Linked DNA regions of Homo sapiens: all the other regions are linked to region 2. The links come from fine-mapping of genetic effects on gene expression. A gene starts in region 2. Each other region holds a variant in brackets. All regions are shown on one strand. Distances are from middle to middle. Region 1 overlaps TGM5 (transglutaminase 5). Region 2 holds the start of CCNDBP1 (cyclin D1 binding protein 1). Region 3 overlaps TTBK2 (tau tubulin kinase 2).

Region 1 (10,304 bases), 51 kb before region 2:
CCATGATGCCTAGTTAATTTTTTTTTTTTTTTGAGACGAGATCTTCCTTTTTTGCCCAGGTTAATCTTGAACTCCTGAGCTCAAGCAATCCTCTCACCTCAGACTCCCAAAGTACTAAGATTACTGGCATGAGCCATCGTGCCTGGCTATCCACAGAGGTTTTAAGCCCTGTGTGTGCTAAGTCTGTCTTTCTATCCAACAGTTCATTTGCTCATCCCTCCCTTGCCTTGTTCTAGAAAGACCAAGCAGTACAACGTCTCCCTTGGCTCTGTTTGACACAGGAACTTCCATGTCTGGAATGAGTGCTGGATGGCCCGGAAGGATCTGCCCCCTGCATATGGAGGCTGGCAGGTGCTGGACGCCACACCTCAGGAGATGAGCAACGGTGAGGCTCTCCAGAAGAAAGGCAGGCCCCGCTCCCGTGGAAAGCACCCCACCCCTGCCCAGCCCTGCAACAAACAGCCCACCGAGGCTCCCCTGTTCTCCTTCAGGCGTCTACTGCTGTGGCCCTGCCTCTGTCAGAGCCATCAAAGAAGGAGAAGTGGACCTGAACTATGACACGCCCTTTGTGTTTTCGATGGTGAATGCTGACTGCATGTCCTGGCTCGTCCAGGGAGGGAAGGAGCAGAAGCTTCACCAGGACACGAGTTCTGTTGGCAATTTTATCAGCACAAAGAGCATCCAGAGTGACGAGCGGGATGACATCACAGAGAACTACAAGTATGAAGAAGGTAAGTAAGCAAGCCAGCCCTACTCAGAGCCCCAGCCCTGCAGGAACCTTCCCCTACCCCAGGGAGCCAGAGAGCATCTGCGAGGCAGGACCCAGCCCCACTGTCTCCTCAGCTGTTCAGTTTTGAGGCCCCAGTTGGGGTGGCCTCACAGCCTCACTTCTTCATGACACCCCCACCCCACATCCTGCAGGCCAGCGAGCTCCCGCCACAAGGCGCTGACATGGACCGTGGAGCCCAAACAGAATATGAATACTTCACCCCTGCTTCCCCCTAAAATCAGCCTCCCACTGAAGATGGCAGGGAATTTAGTAAACACTCTGCCATTCATTTATTTTATTTAGGGTATTATTTAATTCACTGTGTTTCACTGAGTCTTTGGAGGACAGGCTGAAGTGAGCCCAGATGTTCACTCCCACCACTCCTCCCTGTGGGAACGGCACGGCCAGAGGCTGACTCTGAGGTGACAGCCCTGGCAGCAGGGTCACAGGGGAGGCTGTGTTAGTCAGCTATAGATGAATGCCTGGACATTGAGAAGCGCCAGCCACTAGGTTCAATTACCAGGGAGCCAGGCAAAAATATCCAGTCCATGAGGGCCAGAGGCAGGGTGAGGGCCAGAGCTGGGATCTGGCTGGGGAGGATCTGAGCAGGTGCAAGGCAGGGTGGCTGAAGGGCGGTGGGGAGGGCTGAGCAGTTGCTGGGAGTGCTGGTGAGTGGGTGTCTGTGGTTCGTCTACGTGGGCCTCGGGGACAGACGCAGGGAGGCTCCAGAATTCCCCACCTGGGAAGGGGATTTGCAGTAGGGGGCAAGTGTTGAACACAGCCCAGCAGTGCCATCACCACCCACTCCCTGGGGCCTCCGGCCTCATCTTGGCTGGGCTGCCCCAGAAATGGATCCTGAGGCAAGCATTCAAATACAGGTGGTTTATTTTTTAGGCTATCCTGGAAATCCTGGAGCAGAGTGAGGGAGACAGGGAAGGGAAGGAAGTGGATGTAAGAGTACATTTTCAAGCCTGTTAGCACAGTGACAGCTGGCTGGGAGCTCTGGAAGTGGGGTTGTCAGAGAAAATAAAGGACAAATAATGCTTTAGCATAAATTTGTCCCAGGCCAGGAGCTGTAAGCTCACACCTGCAATCCCAACACTTTGGGAGGCTGAGACGGGAGGATCACTTTAGCCTCAGAATTTGAGGCTGCAGTGAACTATGATGGCAACACTGCACTCCAGCCTAGGCAATAGAGTGAGACCTCATTTCTAAACAAAAAAAAAAAAGGCTGTCCCAAATTATTTGTTGTTTATTTGAAATTCAAATTAAATTGCCTTGTATTTTTGTTTGCTAAATCTGGCAACCCTATCACTGATTCGGTGTGAAGTGTAGAACAATACTGCTGATTTATCACACCAGAGAGTCACAGGGGCTAGGGTGTTTATCCATCAACTCCTGTTGGTCATGAGTTGAGGGCTGTTCCTGGGGGATGTAAATTCTTTAGCACTTCTGGCCTGCCCCATGCATGAGCTGAGTCTGCTCTGGTAGCAGAGAAAACCTCAGACAGAGTTGCAGGGGCTGCAATTTGAAAAGTAGGGCCTGTGGACACTGAAATGGCAAGTGCCAAGGGAATATGGGCAGGGCTTTGATGGCATTTGCTAGAGAGGCCCACGGGGTCCCCTGTGGACTCAGGGGGATTGGAGCCATACCCGAGTGGACCTGAGTGTCCTGCTTAGGTGCTCCTCAGGCCAGCAGTATTCAGTCTTCTCCCACCCAGCCTGACAGGGTCTGGGGTCGCACAGACCGCAGATGCGCTAAATCAGATTCCCATCTTCCTGGGCCCACTCTTTTTTTTTTTTTTTTTTTTGAGACAGAGTCTTGCTCTGTCACCTAGGCTGGAGGGCAACAGCATGATCTCCGCTCACTGCAACCTCTGCTTCCTGGGTTCAAGCAATTCTCCTGTCTCAGCCTCCCAAGTAGCTGGGATTATAGGTGCCTGCCACCATGCCTGGCTAAATTTTTTGTATTTTTAGTAGAAACAGGGTTTCACCATGTTGGTCAGGCTGGTCTCGAACTCCAGACCTCAAGTAATCCACCCTCCTTGGCCTCCCAAAGTGGTGGGATTACAGGTGTGAGCCACTGCCCTCAGCCTGTGGGCCCACTCTTACTGAAGCAAATGTCTCCAGATTCTCTTTTGTCTGGAACTGGCCTTAGAATGAACCCCAGAGCAAGGGGATAAAAGTGGCCTCTGCCTCAGGAAGTTGTGGCAAATGCATTGAAGGGGTAGAGCTGGTCCCTGGGGATAGTAAGTACTCAACAAAAGCAGCTTCTGGAATTATGAGGCGTGGGCAAGTATTCCTGCACATGCGGCCCACAGGGACCCCCAGGATAGAGCAGGGAAGCTGGGGCCACCCTGGGAACTCTGCACGCCTAGACCTCCTCTCATATGTATTTACTTATTTACTGTGCTTCTCCTTTCCCTTAGTTTCCAGGAATTAGTCTATGCCTGACCAATAATCTGGCTCTGGAACAGGACATCACACCATGCCCTGCTGTCTTTATGAGGTTTATTTCTCTGCATTTGTGGGCCTTCATCTTTCCCTTGAGGAGATCAGGATAGAGTTGAGCGGTCACAGGCACGGGTTTTAGAGTTGGGCAGGTTTGCTTCCCACCTGGGATCTGCTCCTTACTAGTTGTGTGACTTGGGCAGGTGACATGACTTCCATTAGCCTCCTTTTCTTTATCTGTGTATGGAAGAAGAAGAAGAAGAAGAATGCTAATGGTAATACACCTTGCTTGTGGTTGATACAGGAGGAAGGGTGTGAAGTGGCCAGCAGAGCCTGCCTGGGAAAGCACATGAGGAGTGGAGGGAGTGCTTGTTACTGGGAGTGAAGGCCTGAAGTTGTTGGTGGAGATATTGGGTGGGGGATGGCGCTCAGCCTCAGTCTACCCCGGTCAGCCTGGCTCACAGCTGGTGCTGTGCTCTCCCCAACTTCAGGATCCCTCCAGGAGAGGCAGGTGTTTCTGAAGGCTCTGCAGAAGCTGAAGGCTAGAAGCTTCCATGGCTCCCAAAGAGGAGCAGAGTTGCAACCTTCCAGGCCCACATCACTGAGCCAGGACAGCCCTCGGAGCCTGCATACACCTTCCCTTCGACCCAGTGATGTGGTGCAAGTCTCCCTGAAATTCAAGCTGCTCGACCCGCCCAACATGGGCCAGGATATATGCTTTGTCCTGCTGGCCCTCAACATGTCCTCCCAGTTCAAGGACCTCAAAGTGAACCTGAGTGCCCAGTCTCTGCTGCACGATGGCAGCCCCCTGTCCCCATTCTGGCAGGACACAGCGTTCATCACACTCTCTCCTAAAGAAGGTACGCATGTGCACAGTTTGTGTACGCAGAGTTGGTTTTGGCAATGTCAGTGGGGTCAAGCCAGCCAACAGGGTTCTGGGGGCAGACCCCTGAGACACCATCATTTCTACTGTCCCCTCTGGCACGATTCCCCTCCTTCCCTCTTCTCCTTCCCCCTTCCTTCCTTCCTTCCTTCCCTCCCTCCCTCCTTCCCTCCCTCCCTCTCTTCCTTCCTTCGTTGTATCTCCTCTCTCCCTCCTTTCTCTTCCTCCTCCTTTCCTACCACAACAAAAGTAGCTGGTTTTGCAGAAAAAGCCTGAGATTTGGAGTCTCTGAGACCTTCGTTGGAGCCTCAGCTCTCCCATTTCCTAGCAGAATGGCCTTGGGCAGCCATTTTGGCTCTTTTCAGCTCATTTCCTCATCTAAAAAGCTGCCACCTGCTTCCCTGGGA[T/C]TTGGTACTTGTTGACTTTCTCTTCTCTGTGGAAGAGAGACCCAGGTCCAACCCAGGTACGGCTGATTTTCTCAGCTACTCTCACCCCATCCTTGTGTTCTTTCTTTAGCAAAGACCTACCCCTGCAAAATCTCCTATTCCCAGTACAGCCAGTACCTGTCAACAGACAAGCTGATCCGCATCAGTGCCCTGGGTGAAGAGAAAAGCAGTCCTGAGAAAATCCTGGTGAACAAGATCATCACCTTATCTTATCCAAGCATCACGATTAATGTAGGCAGGAGTCCTGCAAATGGCTTGTGGGGCTCCTTGGATCTGGCGGGGAGGGGGTGAAGCCCTGTGAGAGGGCAGCCTGGGCCTGCTTAGGAGAGCATCCCCTCCTTCCTTTGCCTCTTCTGGTGCTCCAGGAGGGAGAAGTTTGTCTGAGAGATCTTCATCCTCTTGCACCACTCACTAGAGGCCCTATGGATGGGTCCTTGAGCAGGTGCCATGGACAATAGGAGAGACCCCCCTCTTGTGCCCCTCCTGCTGTTGGCCTTCCCCATGGGTCAACATAAGGAAAGTGAGCACAGATGGGAGGGTCTCTGGTCGGGGGAGAGCCCTGTCTGAAAGTCAGTTCAGACTTGATTTGCCATTTTTTGGCTGTGTATCCTTGGACAGGGCCTTGGGCCTCTGTTTCTTGAACTGTTAGAGAGGGGATTAGGCTAGATGGCCTCTGAGGACCCCGCCTGCTCTGACATTCTGCGGTCTTCCAAGTGGGAAGATTTTAAGGTCTCCCTTCCTTCCCGTGCTGTCTCCCCAAAGTCAACCAGCCTCCTAGACCCTGTTAAGTAAGCCCATGGAGCCCCTTCCGGTGGGGAAACATGAAGGTTTGGCTAGAACTTGGGCTTTTGTGGCATCTTAGCAAAGAAGCAATATGTTTTTAGAGAAGTGACAAGAGAAAAGGAAAGGACCTTGAGTCTCAAGGGGTGGCAAATTTTGGGAAGGCAAATACATGGGAAACTCATGGTAGATAAAACTTAGAAAGTTTGTTGTGTAGATTCCTCTGGTGCCCTCTCCAGGCTCGTAAAGGTCTGAAGGCATCTCTGGTGATCAGCCTTTGTCCTTCCTGGTAGAGAGGGGAGGGGGGACACCTTTGTAAATTTATGTCCTGCTTTTAGGCAAATAAAGGGAAACTAGAGAGCTTTTCTTATATCTGCTTCTTCTCAATTGTCTTCGGCTCAAAGAATTCTTATGCCAAAGTGGCATATTTGGAGGTGGCATATCCTGCCACCTTACAGAATGGTGCCCTTCGTAAATATCTGGTGAGTTGGGGAATGAGAACTAATTCTCCTTCCCCTCCTGGTCTGTTTAGGTTCTAGGAGCAGCCGTTGTGAACCAGCCACTCTCCATACAGGTGATATTTTCAAACCCCCTCTCGGAGCAGGTTGAGGACTGTGTGCTGACTGTGGAAGGAAGTGGCCTCTTCAAGAAACAGCAGAAAGTCTTGTAAGTGCTGCAAGTGCTCAGCCTTCTCCTGTTTTTCCCCCCTGAGATTAGCACTATCCTTCCTGAACATGGGTTCCTGAGCCAGACTCCACAACACCGGGGAAGGGAAAGTGGAAGCACTCCCTCCCACTCAGGAAGCTGGGTGGAAAAGGGCTCCAGGGTCATTATCATGCTTTTGGTTTTCTGACATGCTCCATTCTCTGTTGCAGCCTTGGAGTCCTCAAACCCCAACACCAAGCAAGCATCATTCTGGAGACCGTCCCCTTCAAGAGTGGACAAAGGCAGATCCAAGCTAATATGAGAAGCAACAAGTTTAAGGACATTAAGGGTTACAGGAATGTTTATGTAGACTTTGCATTATAAATTCTGGAACAACGCGCCAGACGTGTGAATTTCAAGCTTCAGGAAAAGGAGCAAGTTCAAATGCAAGCTGCGCCATTCCCCACCACAACAGAGGCTTCACAGGGCTCCAGCAAGAGCCACAGAGGGGATGACGTGTTCATTTTCTGTCTCTCCTGACTCCACTAGAAATTTAAGCTCCATGAGGGCAAAGACTTTGCTTTGTTTACTACCCCTATACTCAGAACCATTTCTGGCATATGCTAGGCACTCAACAAATATTTTTTGAATGAATGAATAGGAGACTCCAGCATCCAGAGAACAGGTAGGAAATGTCTATGGATGGATATTTCCCTGGACCATTTGCACAGCTCCCCTGGACTCTTTTCAGGGCCCAGGGATTCCACTGTGTCCCATCCAGAGATTCCAGGATTCCAGTCTCCTATCCAGAAGCGTGATTTGGCACAGAGGTCAGAGGATACTGGTAGGACTTGGCCATGACTTAACTGCCCCCTGCCCCAGATATCCAGGAAAGAAAAAGACAGGCTGAACAGCTCACTGTTGTTTTGTTGTTGCGAAAGCTAATTCCCTAGTATGAATAAACTTCAGACCTTGCTCTCCTTTGCCTCATGTAGTCATCACTTTCCTATCTGTTCCTTGGATGCTGCAGTCTCCATTCATTCAAAAAAGTATTTATTGAGTGCCTAGCATATGCCAGAAGTGGTTCTGAGTGTAGGGGTACAAAGTAAACAAAGCAAAGTCCCTGCCCTCATGGAGCTTACATTTCTAGTGGAGGCAGGGGACATAGACAATGAACACGTCCACAAATAAGTGAGATACTCACAGGTGGTGTATCAGCCATGATCCAGCTAGAAAAAACAAAAACTCACAGGTGTTTCTACTTACTACCTACCATCTTTGTGTCTTGGGGGGAAAAAAAAGTCTGGGAGACCTTTCACCCTTGGCCTTCCTTTGAATCCTTTCCCATATGACATCTAAGAGGTCCCTCAGTCCTAACAGTACCAGCCTATTCACTCAAAACTCACTGACGCACTGTGGTCCTGGATGGCCTTGGGTTGGCTGGGGAGATAAAGCTGGCTGAATAACACAATGAGGTAGACTTTGAGTGGGAAATGGAATACTCTCAGAGTTTTCTATTAGTTGCAGCCTGTGTTTATGGTCATGCAAACTCCACGCTTTCTGGGTCCTACTGAACACAAAAAAATTCTGATCATTATCTCCTCTTGTGGCACTGCACAAAGTTCTGCACAAAGAAAGGCATGATGCACTTGCTCTCTCAGTACTGACTATATGACTGAGACAGCTGTCCTATCAAATACACACACAGTAAATAAAGAAGATGAAGACTTCCAGGCCGGGCGCGGTGGCTCACGCCTGTAATCCCAGCACTTTGGGAGGCCGAGGCGGGCGGATCACGAGGTCAGGAGATCGAGACCATCCCAGCTAAAACGGTGAAACCCCGTCTCTACTAAAAATACAAAAAATTAGCCGGGCGTAGTGGCGGGCGCCTGTAGTCCCAGCTACTTGGGAGGCTGAGGCAGGAGAATGGCGTGAACCCGGGAGGCGGAGCTTGCAGTGAGCCGAGATCCCGCCACTGCACTCCAGCCTGGGCGACAGAGCGAGACTCCGTCTCAAAAAAAAAAAAAAAAAAAAGACTTCCAGTATGTATAAACCAAAGGTATGTGTAGTTAATCAGTGGGATAGAAGGGCATGTGGCAAGAATTAGGGAAAGTAGGGAAATAGTCCTGTGAGAGAGTGGGCTGAGAACCAGGAGCTACTGGCAGGGAGCTGGAAGTAACTTAAAATTATTTCATCTTATAATTATTACCTGACAATCATGAGAAATAGTTTAAGGAAAACACCAGAGAGAGAAACATCTTATAGACACAATGACCTCTGAAGCACATGGAAGATTTCAGGAACTGCACCCTAGGACTCTTTAATGAGTCCTGATTTTAACACCACATTCATTAATTCTTTGATTCAACAAAAATTTACTGAGTTTCTACTAGGGGCCAGGCCCTGAGCCAGGTAGGCCCTAAGGACACAAGAAGGACCAGGGCCTGCACTCAAGGAGCTCAAGTCTAAGGATGTGGAGAATGAAAAATAAACAGGAGGTTATAACACAGAGTGGTGAGATCCACCACTGGGGTAAACCAGGGTGTTGTGGGAGCACAAGGAGGGCCAGCTAGTCCAGCCTTGGGATATTGGTTCAAGGAAGGCTTCCTGGAGGAAGTGGTATTTAAGTGGAGCCCTAAAAGCTAGTGGTTGGTCAAAGACTAGGAATTGGAAGGAGAGGGAGTGGAATAAAGCAGCCAGGAACTGCAAGTCATTCAGATGGCCAGAGGTCAGAATGGGAGGGAGCAAGAAGCAGGAAAGAAATGAGGCAAGAGCCAGGGGGTGAAGAGCTTCAGGCCGCAGTCTAAGGAATTTGGGTCACAATCATCTTCAGGCATCTGCCTCCTCTAAGTCTTGGATCACAATCACTTCCTGCAGTGTCAGTGCTCAGGGCCGATTCCACTTTGCAGAGCTGAGCAGACTTCATGTGACTTAAGAAGCACTTAAAGGACAAATAGTTCTCCACCCTTGTCTGCCATAGGAGCTTGCAATTCCCATCAGAGTCACTTCTTTGAGCGCAAAGGCCTTCCTTAAATGCAAAGGTTGTCTTTCATCCGTTCGTTTAACATTTTTTGAGTTCCTAATGTGCTGAGTGTTCTAGGTGTAGGGAATAGACCAATAAACACGGCAAATAAGGTTCTCCCCAACCCATTCCCAATGGACAACCTCACAGCCCCTCATCCCCCAACCCCAGTGGAACTCAGTATAATTTTCTTCTGACAACGCTCAGCTCAGCTCCAGGCAAAAAGGGTTTTTGAAGAAATTTCTTTTTCCTTATTGTGTGTAGCCTTGGTCGATCTGCCAGTGAAGAAGCCCTGCCCGCCCATGGCCAAGAGGTGGGCATGTGACTTATGCTGGGACAATCAGACACTTCTCCCAGGACTTTGACTGCAGAGTGAAGTGGGTTAGAAAAGGGAGAAACTTGGAGTCCATCCATCTTGGCAGCAGAGACCCAGAGACAGACCAGCCTCTGTTCCTGCTGCCTAGTCACTCGAGCTGCCCTGGAGTCCATCCTTCTCCTAGTCCTGGCTCTCCTTTTCCCCATCAATCTACGAGCTCCTTCATACTCTTGTTTTTTTAAGTTGACCAACACTAGTTTTGGCTTTGCTTGCATTCAAAGGACAATCATGAGACAAAAGGACTTTATCTAGTTCAGAGAAATTGGGTAATTTGTTTAAGACCACACAGCAAAGTCTGTCTGATTCCAAATTCCCCCCATGTCACACTGCCCAGTACTCCCATAGGTCTGCCCTTGGGTCCTAAAGGTGTCTTTGTTAGTGTCATAAGTTAGCCTGAAGTTCAAGGAAGTGTCAGAAGCTCTCATTCACCCCAACCTGGTGAATAACTGGAGAGCTGGGAGCTGGCTGTGTGGAAAGGGCAGGCAGCAACAAGAGCTACACTTTGTTTCCCAGAGCTCGCTCCTCCTTTAGTCCCTGGCCCTCCAAGGCCCACTGTTCAGTTTTTCTTCCCCACCACTTGCCCACTGACCAGCAGCCAACCAACCAATGAGCAGCTGGTACCACTTCTCTACCTGTCCCTGAGACCTGACTTCCCAGTATCCAGGAGCCACTTGGTGCCAGTTTTGGGGCTGCTGCTTTTTCAGGAGTACAGACAAAAAGAATTTGATTGCAGAGTGCTGATCTCAGATATACCCAGCTTTCCTCCAACCCCAGAGGATAGGCTTGGCTTCAGACTCCATGAGAGCCTGGAGCTTCCTGAGGGGAGGCAGGCCACGTGCCTGGTATAGCAAGTGTTAGCAGAAGGTCTGAGCTGGGATGCTGAATGAATCTGTGGGAATGTGAGAAAGAACTCTGTGAACATAGATAATGTTA
Region 2 (10,423 bases):
CTCTATAAGGGCAGAGTTGGGTAGTTGGTTACAAAATCTAAAATATTTACTAACTGGCCCTTTACAGAAAAGAGAGGGAGGGAGAGAGACAGACAGACCAACTGACAGACCATGGTTATTAAACCATTAACCAGGTCTCTCTCTTTTTTTAACAGAATCAGAATATGTAACTAAAGGTAACTAGCATGGACTCGACAATGCTCCATGTTAACTATTTTCCTTCTAGGTGGTCACTGGCTTTCTCATCTTCCTTGTCCTCAATTTTCTGTTAAATTCTAAGTCAATACTATACAAATGTGGTCCAGGTTGGAGCCAGTCTACAAACTGTTTGTGACCAGTCAGGGATGAGATAAGCAGTGACTGAGAGTGTTTAGAAACTTTTATGGCAATTTGACATTTATTCAACATCCGAGCACATAATTTTATTAAAGTATCATTCCATACAGATTGGAATTTAAAAAACAACAACAACAACAAAAAAAAACCAACAACCACCCATCTTTTAGTAGGACTAAAGTGGTGAGATCTCAAGAAGGCAATGATGATTCATGTGTATGTATGTGTGTATATACACACATATATACATATATGTATTTATTTGAATATATGTATATACTTGAATATTTGTATATATTTCAAATAAATCCAAATTCTAACTTTTCATCTATGAGTGAAACTACTGTCCTGAGCATGTATAGAAAATCAGTTCTATGCTGCCTCCTTGTGGTATCTTACTTGCAGTGAGTTTTAGCAGCAAGTCCTAAGTGCATTTGAAAGAAAGGGGTTAGCAGATAAGAAAAATAAGGTAATATTAACTACTCTTTTTGAAATAAGTATTTTCCATGAATCTTTTGAAGTGCTCTCATACAATTCATCTCTTGTTTCCTCATCACAAATCTCAAAGGTAGGCCAGGCACGGTGGCTCACACCTGTAATCCCAACACTGTGGGAGGCCAAGGCAGGCGGATCACTTGAGGTCAGGAGTTCGAGACTAGCCTGCCCAACATGGTGAAACCCCGTCTCAACTAAAAATACAAAAATTAGCCAGGCGTGGTGACAGGTGCCTGTAATCCCAGCTACTCGAGAGGCTGAGGCAGGAGAACTGCTTGAACCCGGTAGGCAGAGGATGCAGTGAGCCCAGACTGTGCCACTGCACTCCAGCCTGAGTGACAGAGAGAGACTCTGTCTCAAAAAAAAAAAAAAAATCTCAAAGGTATGTAGGAGGAGAGAGTTTATCACTGTAGGTACATGCAGCAGAAGATATTTATATCCTTTCCAAACACCTATATATGTAGACTGAAAAATTAAAACAATTGACTATGAAAATCAAATAAGGCAATGAATATGCCATTTTAAAAGAATCTTACTCCTATATTAAGCATACACAACTCTAGAAAAACTGAGCATAGAGCATACGTGGTCATAGCCAACATGTTTACTTTCATTAGTTTTATAATAAAGGAATATTTAAAATGCATAAATCTTTGTTCTAGCAATTCTACTTCCGGGAATTTTTTCTACCAATATACACACATACACAGAATTAGGTAATTCATCACGACACTGTTTGCAGTAATTCTAAGTTGGAAGGTCCAGAACAGTGTTTATGTATCATTTGTGTAAAAAGAAGCTGACACATACAGATAAATGTATATGAATGTATATATGCACAGAATATACGTGGAATAATGCAAAAGGAACTGGGGGAGACAAAAATGAGAAAGTGGGTGGAAAGGTAAACTTAACACACTTTGATATCTGTTGAATTTTGTACTATCTACATATGTTACTGATTAAATATAAAAAATAATATAAAAAGGGTATTATGCAGTATAACAGAATAGGTAGCTTAGACATCAGATAGACCTTGATTTAAATTCTAGCCCCCCTGCTTTTTTTTAAATCTTAAGCTGAGCTTCTGAGCCTCCTTGCTCATCTGTCAGATGGCCATCAAGTATGTGAAAACACCCAGCAAATAAAAAGTGCTTAAAAAATTATCAGAAGGGAAACAACCAGGATAAACTTCAGACTGAACCAATATTTATAAGACCTGCCTACTCCGCGCCAGGAACTGCACTTGGCAATTCGGTCTTCACAACAATCCTGTGAAGTAAAAACGGTAACCTCACTGGACAGATGAAGAAAAGAAATCTCCTGGCGTGCGTGCAAAAGGTGGAAAGAAAATTAGAGGATTCCTAAGGTGTAACTCGGCAGCCCAAGGATTCCACGAAAGTGAAGCCCACCTGTGGAGACGGCAGTGGAAGCTGAGAGAAGACTATGGTCAGAGTCGTGGCTTCCCTTGACACAGTCACAGCTGCCTCATCTGGGGGGTGGCCGAAGAGGAGGCAGGTGCCAATACGTTAGTGCTGCACGGACTTGGAAGACTTCCCTTACCGACCGAGACTTCTCAAAAACACTTCCCGAATGTCGAGGTTAGAATTCTATTTCACCCTCTCAGGTGCTGAGGTGGGTAAGGTACCTCACAGAAAGGATGCAGCGGGGGAGAGCAGTCCCCTCCGTGGGGGACAGCGGGAGGAAAAGGGGTCGGGACGCTGGAGGAACTGAGGCAAGGGGAGCCCGGAAGGAGGCGCACTCACTGAGTCTTCTCCAGAACATCTCTCGATTAAACTCCTCGGTGGTCTCCTGGGCTTCGCCGACTTGTGGGTGTGGCGTGTGGGGGCCGAACGGTGGCGAATGGAAAAGCTGAGGTAAGCGGAGCCACCTCCCTCGCCCAAGCCCGGCTCCCCGCCGCCGCCCCAGCCCGCCCTCTCCGCGACCCCGAGCCCGGCCTCTCCCCGACCCCGAGCCCGGCCTCTCCCCGACCCCGAGCCCGCCCCTGCCGTCGCCCGTTCTAACTCCGTCAGCTCACCCCGCACTCGAGGCAGGAGCAACCGCAGCTCCTCCGCCAAGTGCCGGAGCTGCTCCAAAGGCGAAGCCAGGGTGGGGACTGCGGCTGCAGGTGCAGTTGCGCTCGCCATCTCAGTCGCTTGCCGAAGGCCGCAAACACAGGCCTCCGCTGCCACTGCCGGAGCCGCACTGCGACAGCCGCTCCACTTCCGGGCCACAGCGTCAAGGGCTCGTTTCCGTCAACAAGCCGTCCAGCCCCGTCCCAGAGGCCCTGCCCTGCCTCCTCCCGCCACGAGGCCCGGCCCCGCCCGAGGTCCAGCACCACCCATCCCGTTATCAGAGACCAGGCCTGGCCCCGCCTCCTCCCGCCCCGCCCTGTCCCCTGAGGTACAGCACCAACCATCCCACTCTCAGAGGCCAGGACAGGCCACGCCTTCTCTTGCCCCTTAGGCCAGGCTACACAAGCAAGCCTCAGGCTCACCGTCTTTCTTATTCATCATTCATTCATTTATTTGATTAGTTGAAAACACTTCCGACTAAGGAAGCAGAGAGCCCACAATCCTGTGGGAAAACAGGCCTGGGAACTAATATCTCAGGGGTAGTGAGGGTCGGGCCCAGATCCTCAAAGGTTCCCTGCCCCTGAAATTGCACCTTTGACAGCTGCTGAATTCCAAGCACAGCGGTAAGTGCTTTACATGGGGTAACCCTAAAAAACACACTGGGCCTCAGACACTCCCGTACACACACCCAACCTCTACCCTGTGGATGTCCTAGATAAGGGTTTTCTCTTCACAAAGGTAAATCAACTCTTTGCCTCCTTAGGGAGGGAAGGAATAAAGGCATTATTTTTGAGACTTTTCTGCAGTCCATTCTGCAGGTATCAGTAGTGGGTAATCCCTCCAACGTCCAGGACTCCAAACGAGCAGCTGCTCCCTAAAGCTCACCCACCAATCCTGGCCCTCCACCTGCTACTGGGGTAGAGGCCTGGGCTACAGACACAGAGGCTGGGCTTCTGCCCAGCTGCCAGTGGTGAGACATGGCCTTCAGGAGCTCAGGTGGCTTTTTAACTGCACCATGAAGATTCCAAACTTGGTGGAGTTCAGTGTCCACACATAACGAATGAGAACAGGTGTCAGCAGTGTCAACCAGGTCCGCAAAGGGGAGAATAAAAAAGCTAGGGTGCCGTATGTTGCATAAAGAAAGTAGCAGGAATAAACCTGCCAGATGTACAGCAGTAGCATAAGTAGGTGAACAGGCATAATTTTCAAGTATTTTCTTTGATGGAGATGAGACCTGAAGTTGTGACCAAAGCACCGCTGCAGCAAGCTCCAACACATGTAAGCCATCAAGGGGATGTTAAAAAACGCCAGCTGGAAAAGAACAGAACCATAGCTTACTCCCAAGTCCTTGGAAGAGTTTGGTCTTAATAATGCATTATTAGTGGATCCTAAGACTATGCTGCTATCTGTCTTGGCGTTAGCTAATTTACTTCAAGCACAGTTGCTTATAACACAACAGCTGACTTGTGGCTAGTTGTGTATTTGCCCATGTCCTTTTATTCATCTTAGAGGCAGGTATCATTTAATTTATGCTGAAGTCCCAACTTGTAGTACAGTATCATATACACAGTTAATACCCAATGGTGTTAAGCTGGAATTGAACTGAGTAAATGTATACACACACATACAACAACCCCTCTTTTTTGGTGGAGTGAGGGGAGGACTTGGCTATCAGTATTTTTTTTCTTACCTCCATTTTTGTTTGAGGTAGCATGATAAGTACTGGAATATAAATTAGAGTATCTAAATTATAATCCAAGTTGAGCTGCTGTATGATTCATTCATTTAACAAATATTTATTGAGCACCCATTATGTAGCAGGCATGAGCTAGGCTCCAAGTTGGGGACACAATGGCAAACAAGTTAGAAAAGGTCCGTCATAGAGCTTACATTCTAACAGGGAGAAGACAGACAAAAAAAAAAACCAAAAAATATAATTACAGATCGTGATTAGTTCAATGAAGGAAAGAACTGGGTCATGAGAAGGTAACTGGGAGAAAGGCTCTCAGAGGCCAGAAGGACAAGAATGAATCAGCGGAGGGAAGTGCATTCTAGGCAGAAGGAACAAATGAAAAGCCCAGAGGTGGGAGAGGTCTTGGCCTCTTTAAGGAAGTGCATGCAGAGCATGAGCCAGGTGGAAATTGGGGCAGTCGGCAGGACCCAGATCACTGCTCTGCTTCAAAGCATTTCAAGCTGAAAAGTAAGTGAGCTGATTGTAAAGTTTTTAAAAGAGCACACTGGATGCTCTGTATTAAGCTGAGAGTAAGGAGGCAAGAATATCAGGGAGAAGACCCAGGCAAGAAATAATTACAACTTAGATTAGGAAAACAGAAATGGAGAGAAGTGGATGGATTCAAGATATGCATTGGAAGCAGATCAAATAAGGTAGAGCTTGCTGGTGAAATAGATACAGGGTATGAAGGAAAGGGAATAATTGAGGATACATCTTGGAGAAATCAGGTGAATGGTGGAGTCATTTATTAAAACTGGAAAAACAGAGAGGAACAGGTTTGGGGTGGAAATAATGTTCCTATCAGAGAGACATCACATGAAGTTGAGATGCCTGTTAGACATCTGTGGCCATTGGATATAGAGGCACTTGAAGTGCAGAGAAGAGGTCTAGATCAGAGATATAGATTTGGGATTCATGGGTCTGGATGATACATAAAATCCATTATTAGTGTACTATTTATTAGAATATGAATGTAAACATTTACAAAGGAAAAAACCCTGCCTTTTGGTAAGGCTCAGGATTCATTTGGTATGAGAGAGCTCCTTAGAGACAGCCTCCATCAACATAATAGAAAACTGCAATGAGGCTGGGTGCAGTGGCTCACGCCTGTAATCCCAGCACTTTGGGAGGCCGAGACGGGCGGATCACCTGAGGTCAGGAGTTCGAGACCATCCTGGCCAACACAGTGAAACCCTGTCTCTACTAAAAATACAAAAATTAGCCGGGCATGGTGGCAGGCACCTGTAACCCCAGCTACATGGGAGGCTGAGGCAGGAGAATCACTTGAATTAGGGAGGCAGAGGTTGCAGTGAGCCGAGACGATGCCATTGCACTCCAGCCTGGACGACAAGATCGAGACTCCATCTCAAAAAAAAAAAAAAAAAGAAAAGAAAAGAAAAGAAAACTGAAATGAACCCAGGACCTACTCATGTATATAATGCTGCTATGCAGAGAATATTCTGGACTTGGGTCAGTGTTTGCTAGGCAGAAGTCTTTCCTACTTGGCTGTCTCTAATCCTGTTGGATCATGTTCTACTGCCCTGTTAGAAGGCCATGAACTTATTTTGAATGTTTTTGGATCTCTTCCAAAACTTCAAATTTTGGTCCACTAACTCCATTAGGTGAGTAAAATAAAGAAACTGTTAGATAAATACTTTTCAAATCTGTTTATGTAGTTTTTCTATGGATCAAGGTTCTTTGTGTGTTTATTTTAAAGGAATCAAATGTAAACCTAATACATCAGTTTGTTTCCTAAACAAGTACATTGCTAGGAAAGCCCAGGTCTGGTTTTTGAATAATGCAGTTTCCACTGAATAACTGACCCATTTTTTTAATGTGTCTATTTTTTAGTTTCCTCCCTCTAAAATATTTTCCTTCTTCATCATCATAATCAGTTTTGGTTTACTCAGAAATCTAAAACTTTTTCTACCATAATCCCTTGTTTCATTTTTTTGTCAATGAAAAAGCACAGTGAAACAAAAACAACAAAAACTTCTTTCACCTCTTATAAACACTTCATGACAAAAATGTATTTTAGGCTAGGCATGGTGGCTCACGCCTATAATCCTAGCACTTTCGGAGGCCAAGGCAGGTGAATCATCTGAGGTCAGGAGTTCGAGACCAGCCTGGCCAACATGGTGAAACCCTGTCTCTACTAAAAGTGCAAAAATTAGCCAGGCATGGTGGCACATGCCTGTAATCCCAGCTACCCAGGAGGCTGAGGCAGGAAAATCGCTGGAACCCAAGAGGTGGAGGCTGCAGTGAGCCAAGATTGCACCACTGTGCTTCAGCCTGGGCGACAGCAGAACACTGTCTTGGGGAAAAAAAAATGTATTTTAGATGTTTACATGAGAGTGGTGGAAGGAGTTTAGGAAGCACTTTAAAAGCAAATGAAGCTTTTATTAAAGACTGCCCTGCAAGTAAAGTAGGAAAGATGATCTATGGTACTTAATTCTGGATTTTGGATTTAATTCATAACTGTTATGCAATTAGTCTGACAAGTCCAAGATGTTCTTAAATTGCTTTTCTGACTTCTTACCTGGAGAATTCCAATTATAAATGTTATGCTGCCTTGTAGGAAATGTCCATTAACAAATATCCCAAAGGAAAAGCAGCAACCAAATTTGCCATCAATGATTTCACCAAAAAACCATGGACCTAAAAGAGGCAATGGACAAAAAAGGAGGAGATTAAATAACTATAATTCTGATTACATATATCATGAGATACATTTATAGGAATAAAGCAGAGATATGAGACTAGCCATCTATAAGCATTTTATTTCATAGCCTTCCCTCTTTGCTAGTCTCTGTGTTGTACTTGATATCCTTGCTAACCAACTATTTTTTGGATTGTGAAATTGTCTTAGTAGACACTATACCTAGAACAGATATGTGTCTTATAGATTCTAGAAACAAAAAAAGCACACTCACATTTTTGAAAATTCCATTGCAATAATAACCTCAATATAATGCATTAACATTTCCTTTAAGATGTAAAGAGGTATTCCACAGAAGTTAAATTTCCAGATGATTGAGATTTACTCCTTAAAGCAAAAAAACTTCAACTACTTTTTGAAAGAAATCTTTCTAAGATGCACTCGTTAATATAATGAATGTATTTTAACCTCTTCTTGAAGGCCCACAGTCATTACTTTGTATATCAACTACATAATCACGGTTACCATGTAGAAAGTTTAACTTGCTTCAGTTTTCTCATCTGGAATGCCATGCTGACTTTTCTATCCTCCCTATTATTATTTACTGCCCCATTCTCAGTGTGTGAGTTTCTAGGTATTATTATTATTATTATTGTCATTTTGTCTTGTAAGTGTGCTGGTCTCCATAAGAGTGTCAAGTTGTTTGTCAAGAGTGATAAGGGACAGTTAGATTTCCGTTTGCAAAATGCAAATACTAGGCCAGGCAGGGTGGCTCATGCCTATAATCCCAGCACTTTGGGAGGCCAAGGCCGGCAGATCACCTGAGGTCAGGAGTTCAAGACCAGCCTGGCCAACATGGTGAAATCCTGTCTGTACTAAAAATACAAAAATTAGTCAGGTGTGGTGGCACATGCCTGTAATGCCAGCTAGTCGGGAGGCTGAGGTAGGAGAATTGTTTGAACCCAGGAGGCAGAGGCTGCAGTGAGCCAAGATTGCACCACTGTACTCCAGCCTGGGCAACAAAGCAAGACTACATCTCAAAAAAAAAATGCAAATACCATCATTTGCTGGCAAGAATAGGGTTCAGCTTTAAAAAGTCAGAGGCAATTTTCTCAGATATACTTTATATAAACTGCATTAAAGACATATGAGTCTAAAAAGGTGTTTTGTCTTCAGATTTCAACTTTCTGAATGGAACAATTCTTCCCTATTAATGTATTTTGTTTTGTTTTGTTTTACAGCCCAGGAACCAAATTACTTGCTTTACCTCATTGTGTAAGACAAGCGTCAAAAACAGCTTCAACCTATCTTGAACAAGAGAACTTACCTCCAAAGGTGATCTGCCATAGCTTACACAGAATCATAAAGTGTTATATTTTCATTTGTTCTCTGGTGGGAGTTACTAATGAGCAAAGTGCAAAGGGAGGATAAAAGTGTAAAATAAAGACTAAGACTAGGCAACAAATAGGCTAATGTACTCCTAATTGACTTTTAGTCACTAAGAAACATAAGCAAAAAAGCCTAAAAGATTTATGGTGATTTCTGCTTTTATAAGTGTGGCTAAGTGACTTTATAAGTACAGTCATGCATTGCTTCACCATGAGGATGCATTCTGAGAGATGTGTCCTTAGGCAATTTTGTCCTTACATATCATACACAAACCTACATGATATAGTCTATTATATACCTCCAGCTCCACTAGAGTCTTATGGGACCACCACTGTATATGTGGTCCCTTGTTGACTGAAATGTTTGTCATATGCCACATGATACTACTGGGTATAATAATACAACAGAAGAGTGCAGATATGCCTGAACTATTGCTCATCTCAGTTTCTCTCTTTTTTGAGCTGAATTTTTGAGAGCCACACATTAGTAAATATTCAATGAACTACATACTAAGCAAAATAGGCAAAATACCAATGGATAGATATATATACTTTTTTTTTAGATGGCGTCTTGCTGTGTTGCCCAGGCTGGATTTGACCTCCTGGACTCAAGCAGTACTCTCGCCTCAGCCCCCAAGTAGCTGGAACTACAGGCATGAGCCACCGTACCCGCCTACCAGTGAATATTTTAATGAGTTAATAGATAATAAACACAGAAGATAGGTATAAATTCTGATAAAGGTAATGATGGAAGTAAAACCTGTGATGAGATATAGACTAAAACTTTAAGATAGACAAAGAAGGTTGCTCTGAGGAGGTGCTATTTAAGCTTCTATTAGGTTTCTACACAAATACTAATTCTGTAGCAGTCTTCTCAGCACCCTTAAGTTAACTTGGTGTTAACTAAATGTCCTTTAAACATGTTAGGCACGAGCTTTATTTTCCAAAACCATGTCCCAGAAAATGATTTATGAAGAATCCATGAGCCATTTGTTATACCCTCAAGAGTCTAATTCTATTGTCAAAATTGTTAATATATTCTTTGGCAAAATTCCCCATAATCTGTACTAATTTACTTACCCAGCACTGTATACAGGGTCAACAACAACACAGAATAGTAGAAGATGTTTATTTTGCTCAAGACATGAAGAGAAAATGAGGTCAGATTTATAAACCCTGAAGGTTCTAAAAAACATAAAGTTGAAAAACCCAGTGAACACATGCAAAGTTCAGTTTCTTTATGACATTTTCTAGAAGATTTTCATGGGCTATCTACCATATATTCAGCAAATCCTTTGTTAGATGGTAACTATACAGATGACACCACTTTAAATTCAGAATTTGGCAGGAATCCTGGTGAGACAGTTCACTTAGAATTGCAAAAGGCAGAGAGTTCGAAGAAATGGTGTAGTTGTGAGATATTTTATATATATCATAAGATACATAATTGTTATATATATCACAATATATCGAACTCATATATATATGCACATATATGTACATATACATATATATATAATAACTGAAAGCAATGGACACACCTACCAGAGCACCATACTATTTTATCTTTATATAGGTTTGAAAGATAGTGGTTTGTTCAAAGGATGATCAAGTCTCTGTTTTCTATGGAATTTAGTGTCCAAATGTACAAACTTCAAAAAGGTATATCAAAATACTTCAAAAGTAAATTAAAAGAAATATCAAAATATCTTCATTCTAATCATAAATATGAGTATCT
Region 3 (10,462 bases), 400 kb after region 2:
GGCTGGAGAATGGCTTGAGTCCAGGAAATGGAGGTTGCAGTGACCTGAGATCGCGCCACTATACTCCACCCTGGGCAGCAGAGTGAGATCCTGACTCAAAAAAAAAAAAAATAGACAAAGAATACATCTTGTAGAGGAAGAAATATAGCAAGTATAGCAAGATACTGTGCACATAATAATAAAATACTATGACAAAGCTTTCCTCCTATGTTCTCTTCTAGGAGTTTTATAGTCTCAGGTCTTAACATATAGGTCTTTTATACATTTTTAGTTGATTTTTGTGTATTGTGTAAAATAGGGGTCCAATTCCTTTGCACGTGGAAATCCAGTTTTTCCGGCACCATTTATTGAAGAGCACCATTTATTGGATCCCACTGTGTCCTTTTGGTGCCCTTGTTGAAAATTAGTTGACCAAATAAGGTATCTGCACTCTCGTGTTCACTGCAGCAGTATTTACCATAGCCGAGATACAGGAACAACCTAAATACCCACTGATGGACAAATTGATAAAGAAAATGTATATGTGTGTGTGTGTGTGTGTGTGTATTGTATGTATTTGTATATATATATGCACACACAATGGAATATAGATGATGTATAAATACTTACACACACACACATAATGGACTATTATTCAGCTTTTTATTTTTCTATATTTATTTTTTTGAGACTGATTCTTGCCCTGTTGCTCAGGCTGGAGTGCAATGACATGATCTCTGCTCACTGCAACCTCCGCCTCCTGGATTCAAGGGATTCTCCTGCCTCAGACTCCTGAGTAGCTGGGATTACAGGCCTGCGTCACCACAGCTGGCTAATTTTTGTATTTTTATTAGATATGGGGTTTCACCATGTTTACCAGGCTGGTCTCGAACTCCTGACCTCAGGTGATCCACCTGCCTCAACCTCCCAAAGTGCTGGGATTACAGGCATGAGCCGCTACACCCGACCTTATTCAGCTTTTAAAAAGAAGGAGATCCTATCATTTGCCACAGCATAGGTGGAACTAAAAGACATGCTTAGTGAAATAAGCCAGACAGAAATAAAAATGTTGCATGATCTCATTTATATGTGAACAAAAAACATATATATATATATACACACACACACGTATATATATTTTAAAGCACTCAAATACACAGAGATTGAGAATGATACAGTGGTTACCACAGGGGGTTCAAGGAGGGAGGAAGGAAAGGAAATGGGGAGATGTAGGTCAAAGGATATAAAATAGCAGATATGTGGGATGAACAAGTGTGGAGATCTAATGGACAGCATAAGGAATAACCTTTATAAAATTGTATTTTCAGAAGTCTTGGACATAAATAAAAATAAAATTGTATTAGAGATTTTTGTTAAATAAGTAGATTTTAGCTGCTCTTTGTCACAAAAAAAGTAACTGTGAGTTGATAGGTTAATCTGCTTCCCTGTAATGACCATTTTACTGTCTATGTATATCCTATTACATCATGTTACAAAGCTCAAATACAATTTAAGGAAGTAAAATACTACAGCAGACTTAAGACCAAACACATCAGTCACAGCAATAAATATACATGGGGTTAACTCACCTATTAAAAGGAAAACATTTTCAGTTTGGGTTATATAGCTATATTCATATGCTGTGTATAAGAGACACACACCTAAAAAAAGTAAGAAAGAGATGGACAAAGATATATCAGAAAGATAGAAAAGAGAAGTGATCCTAATAACAGATGATGTAGAATTCAAGCCAAAACAAAAAACTTAGAAAAGATGGAAGGGCACTTTTTAATGCCAAATGCCACAATTCACAAGTGGGATACAAAATTTATTAATATTTAGTCACCAGAATCATGACACTCACCTTTGGGAAACAACAACTGCAGGATATTCAAGGAGACATAAAAACACACTCATAGTTGGAGATGTTAATGTACCACCCTCAGTTTAAGACAGATCAAGTGAACAGAGAATAGGAAGATAGAAGACTTAAACAGCGTGATCGTAGTAAGGTAGATCATATGTATGTTTTCTGAACTCTATACCTTGATGATAGAGACTATACCTCCTGCCCAGGGGCCCCTGGAACATTCACAAAAATTGATCAGGTATTAGGTCACAAACAAACATGTAAGTAGTTCCATAAAGTAGAAGTATTACATTATCTGATCACACTGCAAGAAAACTAGAAATTACCAACAAAATTAAAATATCAAAGGCCCTTTTACTGGAAATTTAAGAACCTATTAAACTACAGTCATGTGCCGTGTAATGACATCGCAATCAGTGATACACCGCATATATGACAGTGGTCCTATAAGATTACAATACTGTAGTTTTACTCTACCTTTTCTATGTTTAGATAATGTTATAATACCCAAATACTTAACCATTGTGTTACACTTGCCTCCAGTATTCAGAACAGTGACATGCTGTACAGGTTTGTAACCTAGGAGCAATAGGTTATACCATATAGCCTAGGCACGTAATAGGCTATACAATATAGTTTTTTTAAGTACGCTGTGATCATTTGGATAATGATGAAATTGCTTAACGATGGCATTTGTTAGAATGTATCCCCGTTGTTAAGCGATACATGACTGTACTCTTGGGTGAAAAGGAAAATAAAAACTAAAAGTTATAGAAAAAAATGATAATGTAAACACTACTTATCAGAATCTATGAGATAACTTTAGAACAAAGATCAGAGGAAAACCTATGGCATTAAACAAGGAGGTACATAATGTCAGTATGTCTCATTACTGATGATACTTATGTTGACAATTTGGTTACAGTGGCCAGTTCTTTCTACTATAAAGTTACTGTTTTTCTCTTTGTAAGAAATAATCTTGTGGGAAGATATTTGCAACTATGTCAGCACTGTGTTTCTTGTCATACTTTTCCTATTAATTGTAGCATCCATCAGTGAATCTTGCCCACAGGCCTAACCATTACTGTCTGCCCTCTAAGAAAAAGTTTGCCAACTTCTGATTTTTTTCTGTTTGCAAATGATATGGTAGAATACCTGGAGAATCAGTGTTAAAGAGAAAAATTTATAGTGTATGTCCCAGAACCCTGAATTTCTTCGTAGAGGGAGAATGAAAGTTTAGAAGGTAAGAGGACGCTTTAAATCATGAGCCAGCAAGCTTTATCTATAAAGGGTCAGATAAATATCTGTGAGCTATGCTGTCTCTGTCACTACTGTCATTGCTGTTATAGTGCAAAAGCTGCCATGGCCAACGTGTAAACAGACGAGACTGACTGTGTTCCAATAAGTCTATTAAAAAAAAATAGGTAAGCAGGCCAGATTTGGCCCACAAGCACTAGTTTGCCTTAGATTATGGGGAATGAAATATGAAAAGGATATTCGTTCTTACTATTTTTTCTCATATCTCTTCAGTTCTTCCACACATTTTCTTACTTATTCCCTTAATCTGCTTCAGTTATATAATACCTTGCCTGGAAACACAGACCATGTGCTAATAACACTCTTATGTATACTTTCTCACTCATTCATATTCCTGAACATGATATAATTTTCCTGGGAAGGAATTATTTCTTTCCATATTGCATACTCAAGATTTGGATCAGAGTTTAGGAAAAGAAACAATAACCAGGGAAGGAGAAAGGAATGGAGAATAAATGCAGAGGGAGGGTCTGGGTGGGAGAGGAACCTGAGTCCTATAAAAGAGAGCCTGTGTGGAGAAGATGGACGAGGTCCTTGGAGTGTGTGGTATCATATTGAAGCATAAGAGATAAGAGAAAAAGTAGGATTGAATGAAAGTAGAAGTGTATTCAGAGATGGAGGTGTGGTTTGTTTCCTGAGGTGTGAAAGAAGGAAATGCAAAGGAATTGAGGTAGTTGGAAAAAAAGCAGAATAGTGGCTAGACATAAGGGAAAAAGGGACTTGAAAGAATACTGAGTGATTAAAATGGAAAAAAGGTGACGATAATAGACTAAGCTTCTTGAGTTCAAATATTCATCTATTTCCCTTTCTCTTTCCTCAGGAATAGAGGGAATTCTTTCAATAAACATTTGGATTACCATGTAGTACATGTATGTTAGTGTCCATTATGACTCTTTTATCAATAAATAAATTATATTGAACTAATATCTGAAAAATCTGTTAGTAGCCAGTTTATTTCTGATCTTTAATTATCTCTATAATAAATCTGAACTATTGATTTGAACTATTTGAACTATTTTAGGCCAAACTACCTTTTAAATATGCTTCCACTGTCAGAACTACAGATACTACTTTACTAGGTTGTAAGTTTTTTTTTTTTTCTTTCTTTTTTTTCGGGGAGCCATTATCAGTGCTTTTCTAGATTATATCCTTGTAAATTGTTGATAAAG[A/G]GGTTCATTCTAGCATTGATCCATTTAGGCAAAGGTAGTGGTGAAGGTCATCGGTTACCAAGTCAGGTGGAACAAGTCCCTGAAAAATCACTGGTCTTCTCAGAGCATATGAAATACTCGTGACACCAGTGCCAGGATCTAACTGTGACCCTTAAAGTGGCTCACTGAGAGGATGTTGCCACTCACAGTAATTACAGGAGTCAGTATAATGTACTGAAGACTAATTTTTCTACTTTGAGACATTCCAGGTCACTTCTAAGAGGAGGTTTCATTGTGTGCTAAGTATTGTGTTCAGTCAGCAATATTTAAAAAAAAAAAAAAAAACCCTAGAATATAGAGTTACAGAACTGGCAGGAGCCTTTTCACTTGGTGAAGGAAAACTGTGAACTAGAAAAGCCTCTCATGGGAGGGTCTAAGGGAGCGATGACCAACCATATAAATAAGACCTGGAATTACTTTGAAAGAAATATATAGACAAATACCAATTAATATTTGCTATTTTTTCCCCCAGGTCAGTTCATGCTGAACTATATCAACTGTATAATTACAGAAAGTCTAGTTTCCCCTCTAGGGCAAGAATTTCCTTCCTCTTTGTGTTGCTAGGGCCTTGCATGTAGTAGGTGCTTAGTAAAAAGTCTGCAAGTGGCCGGGCACGATGGCTCACACCTGTAATCCCAGCACTTTGGGAGGCCAAGGTGGGTGGATCACTTGGGGCCAGGAGTTCGAGACCAGCCTGGCCAACATGGCAAAACCCCATCTCTACTAAAAATATAAAAAATTAGCTGGGCATGGTGGTGCATGCCTGTAATCCTAGCTATTTGGGAGGCCGAGGCAGGAGAATCGCTTGAACCCCGGGGGCGGAGGTTGCAGTGAGCAGAGATTATGCCACTGCACCCCAGCCTGAGAGACAGAGCTTGACTCTGTCTCAAAAAAAAAAAAAAAAAAAAAATCTGCAAGTGAAAAAGTAATACACATTTCACACTGTAAAAAAATAACATAGCTGATTGATCTGACACCTGTTTATTTCATTATGGCACTGCGAAAGTTGATTATACAAATTAGGTCATTCTTGTCATAGTCAACTAAATCAATCAAGAGGCCAGGGAGAAAGTACTTGGGGCACATAGCACCTGCTCCAAGAATTTAATTTCTTACAAGCCCAGCTGCTGAAATGGCCTGCTGTGACTCCAAGACTAAATTTACATACCTCTGTCACTCACCAGTCAGAGCCTGCCAGCTCCCAAAAGCTTCTCTGATGCCAATGAACTTTCTTTCAAAACAGTATATGACATCTCTCTAATAAAACCCCCAACCTCTCCTTTGGTCTTTAGATATACCAGAGACCCACTCAGTCTATGTGTGTGCCCCAAATTGTCATTCTTGCTTCCCAAATGGAATGTTAATTTGGAGATTCATCTCTGTATTTTATTTGGAGTTCAACAGCACTTAACATTTTCCTGTTTAGAATTTTTAAAAATTCTCTAACACGCCGGGTGCCGTGGCTCACACCTGTAATCCCAGCACTTTGGTAGGCCAAGGCAGGCAGATCACCTGAGGTCAGGAGTTTGAGACCACCCTGCCCAACATGGCGAAACCCTGTCTCTACTAAAAATACAAAAAATAGCCCAGTGTGGTGGTGGGCGCCTGTAATCCCAGCTACTCAGGAGGCTGAGGCAGGAGAATCGCTTGAATCCGAGAGGTGGAGGTTTCAGTGAGCCGAGATCGCGTCACTGCACTCCAGCCTGGGCGACAAGAGTGAAACTCTGTCTCAAAAAAAGAAAAAAAATGTTGTTATAATTGACAGAGACTTCTATGAAAATAGATGAAATGCTTTTTACTTTTAAAGTGATTGTCAAATTAGGGTGTTATTGTTTTAGATTTTGTATTTTAAAATCAGCTTGAAAATTCTAATTGATCAAAATTTTAAAGTTTTATTTCGTAGGATTGGCATGACCTAAGTTTTTTTTTTCTTTTTCTTTTGTTTTTGTTTTGTTTTGTTTTTTGAGCTGGAGTCTCGCTCTGTCACCCAGGCTGGAGTGCAGTGGCGCAATCTTGGCTCACTGTAACCTCCGCCTTCTAGATTCAAGCAATTCTCCTGCCTCAGCCTCATAAGTAGCTGGGATTACAGGTGCCCACCACCACGCCCAGCTAATTTTTGTATTTTTAGTAGAGACAGGGTTTCACCATGTTGGCCAGGCTGGTCTTGAACTCCTGACCTCAAGTGATCTGACTGCCTCAGCCTCCCAAAATGCTGGGATTACAGGCATAAGCCACCATGCCCGGCCAACCTAAGTTTTCAAGGTGCTTTTTTTTTTTTTTTAACTCTCTTAATTATGTGTGGAGTTCATTTAAATGAAGAAATAAAATGATGTAAGATAGTCTCATAGTAATTTTTGATTCTTGCCTTTTTTTTCTCCCTTCATATGTAGAATTGCCAATGCTACTCCCATCCCTGGAGACTTGCTTCGAGAAAATACAGATGAGGTATTTCCAGATGAACAGCTTAGCGATGGAGAAAATGGCATCCCTGTTGGTGTGTCACCAGATAAATTGCCTGGATCTCTGGGACACCCCCGTCCCCAGGAGAAGGATGTTTGGGAAGAGATGGATGCCAACAAAAACAAGATAAAGCTTGGAATTTGTAAGGTATGAGTACCTTATAAACAACAGAAATTTATTTCTTACAGTTCAGAAGGCTGGGAAGTCCAAGAAGGAAGGCTAGGCAGATTTGGTATCTGGTGAGGGCTGTTTTGTGGCTCCTCCTTGCTGAGTCCTCATGTGGTAGATGGGGAAAGGGATCTCTTTTGGGCCTCTTTTGTAAGGACACCACTCTCATTCATGAGGGCTCTGCCTTCTTGACCTAATTACCTCCCAAGGGGCCCACCTCCTAATACCCTCACATTGGGAGTTAGAATTTCAACATGTGAATTTTGGGGGGACACAAACATTCAGACTATAGCAGGTGTATATGTTCAGTCATGGGAGTCATTTGCAAAATGATCTCTGGATCGATGTGATATGCCACAATGTGATTTGGCTGTTGACAAAGCACAATCTGGATGAATAGTAATCAGGAATGAGTAGTGGAAAGTAGACAGGGAGTCAGTGTCAGATTTTTCTAGTATCAGCTGTGGCTGTCTTTATGGCACCAGGAACAAACTGTTCTTATAGCAAAAAAAAAATCACTAGTGACATTCTCAGTTGTCAGCCCATATGGATATCCGTGTATGCGAGAGAATGAAGTGGCGCTTGACATGGAAGATCTTAGTTATTTTGGTTTCTGTCTTTTACTCACTATCACTATTTAATCTCAGTGAAATTTGAATGGTAGATAGTTTTGACCCTAAGTCCATTATTTGTCATCATGGTGATGTGCAGTTTATTGAATTTATAATGTATAGTGCTGTACATTACAAGCTCTCATTTTGAACATCTGGATAAAGCATTAAGCTAAATATTGAAGACAATTTACTAAGCTATGTGCTGTGCAGTTTAAGATACATCTTTTACCTTTAAGGAGCTTACGGTCTCTTTGGGTAGATATGTAGCTGCACAAGCAAATATAATACAAGACAGAACATTGTGCAAAACATTTAAAAAAATTAAAATGCATGCAGATGGGGTGGGAGTTGGGAACATGTCTTATGGAAGAAGTGGTTGAAGTAGAAGTATAAGTAAAAATATGTACATGAGGGCCAGGCATGGTGGCTCACACCTGTAATCCTAGCACTTTGGGAGGCCAAGGTGGGCGGATCACCTGAAGTCAGGAGTTCAAGACCAGCCTGGCCAACATGGTGAAACCCTGTCTCTACTAAAAATACAAAAATTAGCAGGGTTTGGTGGTGGGTGCCTGTAATCCCAGCTACTTGGGAAGCTGAGGCAGGAGAATCGCTTGAACCTGAGAGGTGGAGGTTGCAGTGAGCCAAGATCATGCCACTGCACTCCAGCCTGGATGACAGAGTGAAACTCCACCTCAAAAAATATATATACATATATACATGAAAAAGTGCATGGATAGAGCTTATAACTTTAGGAATTTATTGGTCATCTAGGAGAAAAATTCAAAACAGCTATATTTATCTTTTAAAATCTACTTATACTATATATAAAAGATTTCATATATATCATGTCAAAGCATAGTAATATAAGCATGTGAATCCACCATCTGCCCTAAGAACTAGAATATTTTAACATATTCCTTCTATATTTATGCTTCTACCCTATCCCCACTGAGGTAACCGCTGTCTTAGGTTAGATTCCATAAAAGCAGAGCTACAAAACAAACCTTAATAAGTTTAAATAATTGAAATCACACATACTATGTTCTCTAAAAATATTGGAGTTAATCTAGTAATCAGTGACATAAAGACAACAGGAAAATCTCTAAACACTTGGAAATTATACAGCATATTTCTGTATAATCCATGGGTCAGAGAGGAAGCCTTAAAGGAAAATTTTTTAAATTTACATAGAATTGAATGAAATCGAAACCACAACATATCAAAATGTTGGGGAGGTAGCTAAAGCAGTACTGAGAGAGAAATGTATAGCACTAAATACTTACATTAGGAAAGATAAGGTTTTACATCAATAGTCTAAATCCTACCTCAAGAAAGTAGAAAAAGAAGCAGCAGAATAAGCTAAGACAAGCAGAAAGAAGGTAATGAATATCTCTGTTACTGTATTGCAAAAGTTTTGGTGTGTTGTATTTTTATTCTCATTCTGTTCTGAATATTTTTCCGTAATGATTTTTTTCATCCATGAGTTAAGTGCATACAAGTTTAGAGTTTTTACATCTGCCAGGTGATTAAAAGTTTTGTTTTTCTTTATATAATGACTATTTCTATTCTGTTCCTACTATTTTTTTTTTCTAGCATTAAAGCCTATTTTGTCAGATGTTAATACAGTTATGCCAACTTTCTTTTGGGTAGTACATGCCTGGTGTATCTTTTTTCTGCCTTTATCTTTCTATTTTTTCTCATTCTGTTGTGACTGTTGTTAAGTGGAGTATAAGTGGACAATCTTACGTCTTTATGTTTTAATTAGTCAGCTTAATTGATTTACATTTAGAATTATTATTGTATTTGTGTATTTATTTTCTGAGACAGAGTCTCGCTCTGTCACCCAGTCTGGAGTGCAGTGACATGATCTCGGCTCACTGCAACCTCTGCCTCCCGGGTTCAAGTGATTCTCCTACCTCAGCCTCCCAAGTAGCTGAAATTACAGGCACCCGCCACCACGCTTGGCTAATTTTTGTACTTTTAGTAGAGAGGGTTTTGCCATATTGGCCAGGATGGTCTCGAACTCCTGACCTGAGGTGATTTGTCCGCCTCAGCCTCCCAAAGTGGTAGGATTACAGGCACAAGCCACGACGCCCAGCCAAATTATTTTTATATGAACTTGTTTCTCTTTTAAATTTCTATTCAGTTTTTTAATGCCTTTTTCCTGCCTTTCTTTTCATTACAGATTTTGTTGGTATTTTTCATCTTCTGTTTTCTCTTTGTACTTACTGGGGATTTAAACATTCTAATTCTGTTCTCTTGGTAGTTGTCCTGGAAATTTCCCAGTTATTTTTAACTTAAAAGTCTAAAATTAAGCAATATCCTAACTACCTTTCTGATACTGCAAGGACTGTAGAACATTTTAACTTCATTCACCCTTCTCCCAACATTTTAGTACTCTTCTAATTTTAATTCTTTCTTTTAAAAAAAAAAAAAGAAAAAGAATGACTTGCCCTGGCACAGTGGCTCACACCCATAATCCCAGCACTTTGGGAGGCCAAGGTGGGAGGAACACTAGAGCCCAGGAGTTCGAGACCAGTCTGGGCAACATGGCAAAACCCTATCTCTACCAAAAAAAAAAAAAAAAAAAAAAAGTTAGCCGGGCATGTTGGCACGTACCTGTAGTCCCAGGTACTTGGGAGGCTGAGGGTGGAGGATCGCTTGAACCTGGGAGGAGAAGCTGCAGTGAGCCAAGTTTGCGCCACTGCACTCCAGCCTAGGTGACAGAGTGAGACTCTGTCTCAAACAGACAGCAACAAAGAAGAATGACTTGAATTAGATTATTATTTATTTTATTTATTTTTTGAGACAGAGTCTCGCTCTGTCACCTAGGCTGGAGTGCAGCG

The links. PIP is the estimated chance that this variant, and not a neighbour inherited with it, causes the effect.
Region 1: its variant is fine-mapped to the expression of CCNDBP1 in whole blood (TOPMed, PIP 0.99).
Region 3: its variant is fine-mapped to the expression of CCNDBP1 in whole blood (TOPMed, PIP 0.98).

The regions. Positions count from the first base shown.
Region 1 is chr15:43,229,244-43,239,547 of GRCh38, reverse strand. It overlaps TGM5 (transglutaminase 5), which reads left to right. Exons shown (of 13, transcript NM_201631.4): 8 at 282-385; 9 at 492-731; 10 at 3,711-4,079; 11 at 4,619-4,779; 12 at 5,861-5,994; 13 at 6,204-6,958. The coding sequence ends at 6,357. Among named protein-coding and RNA genes, the nearest start is that of EPB42, 13 kb to the right of the region's middle. The variant T/C (reference allele first, on the strand shown) is at 4,510.
Region 2 is chr15:43,178,054-43,188,476 of GRCh38, reverse strand. It overlaps CCNDBP1 (cyclin D1 binding protein 1), which reads right to left and starts at 3,074. Exons shown (of 11, transcript NM_012142.5): 1 at 2,870-3,074; 2 at 2,598-2,657; 3 at 2,244-2,323. The coding sequence starts at 2,978. It overlaps TMEM62 (transmembrane protein 62), which reads right to left. Exons shown (of 14, transcript NM_024956.4): 12 at 9,766-9,870; 13 at 7,178-7,296; 14 at 3,333-4,217. The coding sequence ends at 3,891. It overlaps LOC124903478 (a long non-coding RNA gene), which reads left to right and starts at 2,590. Exons shown (of 2, transcript XR_007064604.1): 1 at 2,590-2,708; 2 at 8,539-8,762. RefSeq lists an enhancer at 2,469-2,568 and silencers at 2,739-2,828, 3,049-3,348.
Region 3 is chr15:42,779,938-42,790,399 of GRCh38, reverse strand. It overlaps TTBK2 (tau tubulin kinase 2), which reads left to right. Exons shown (of 15, transcript NM_173500.4): 11 at 6,765-6,981. Among named protein-coding and RNA genes, the nearest start is that of TTBK2-AS1, 46 kb to the right of the region's middle. The variant A/G (reference allele first, on the strand shown) is at 4,336.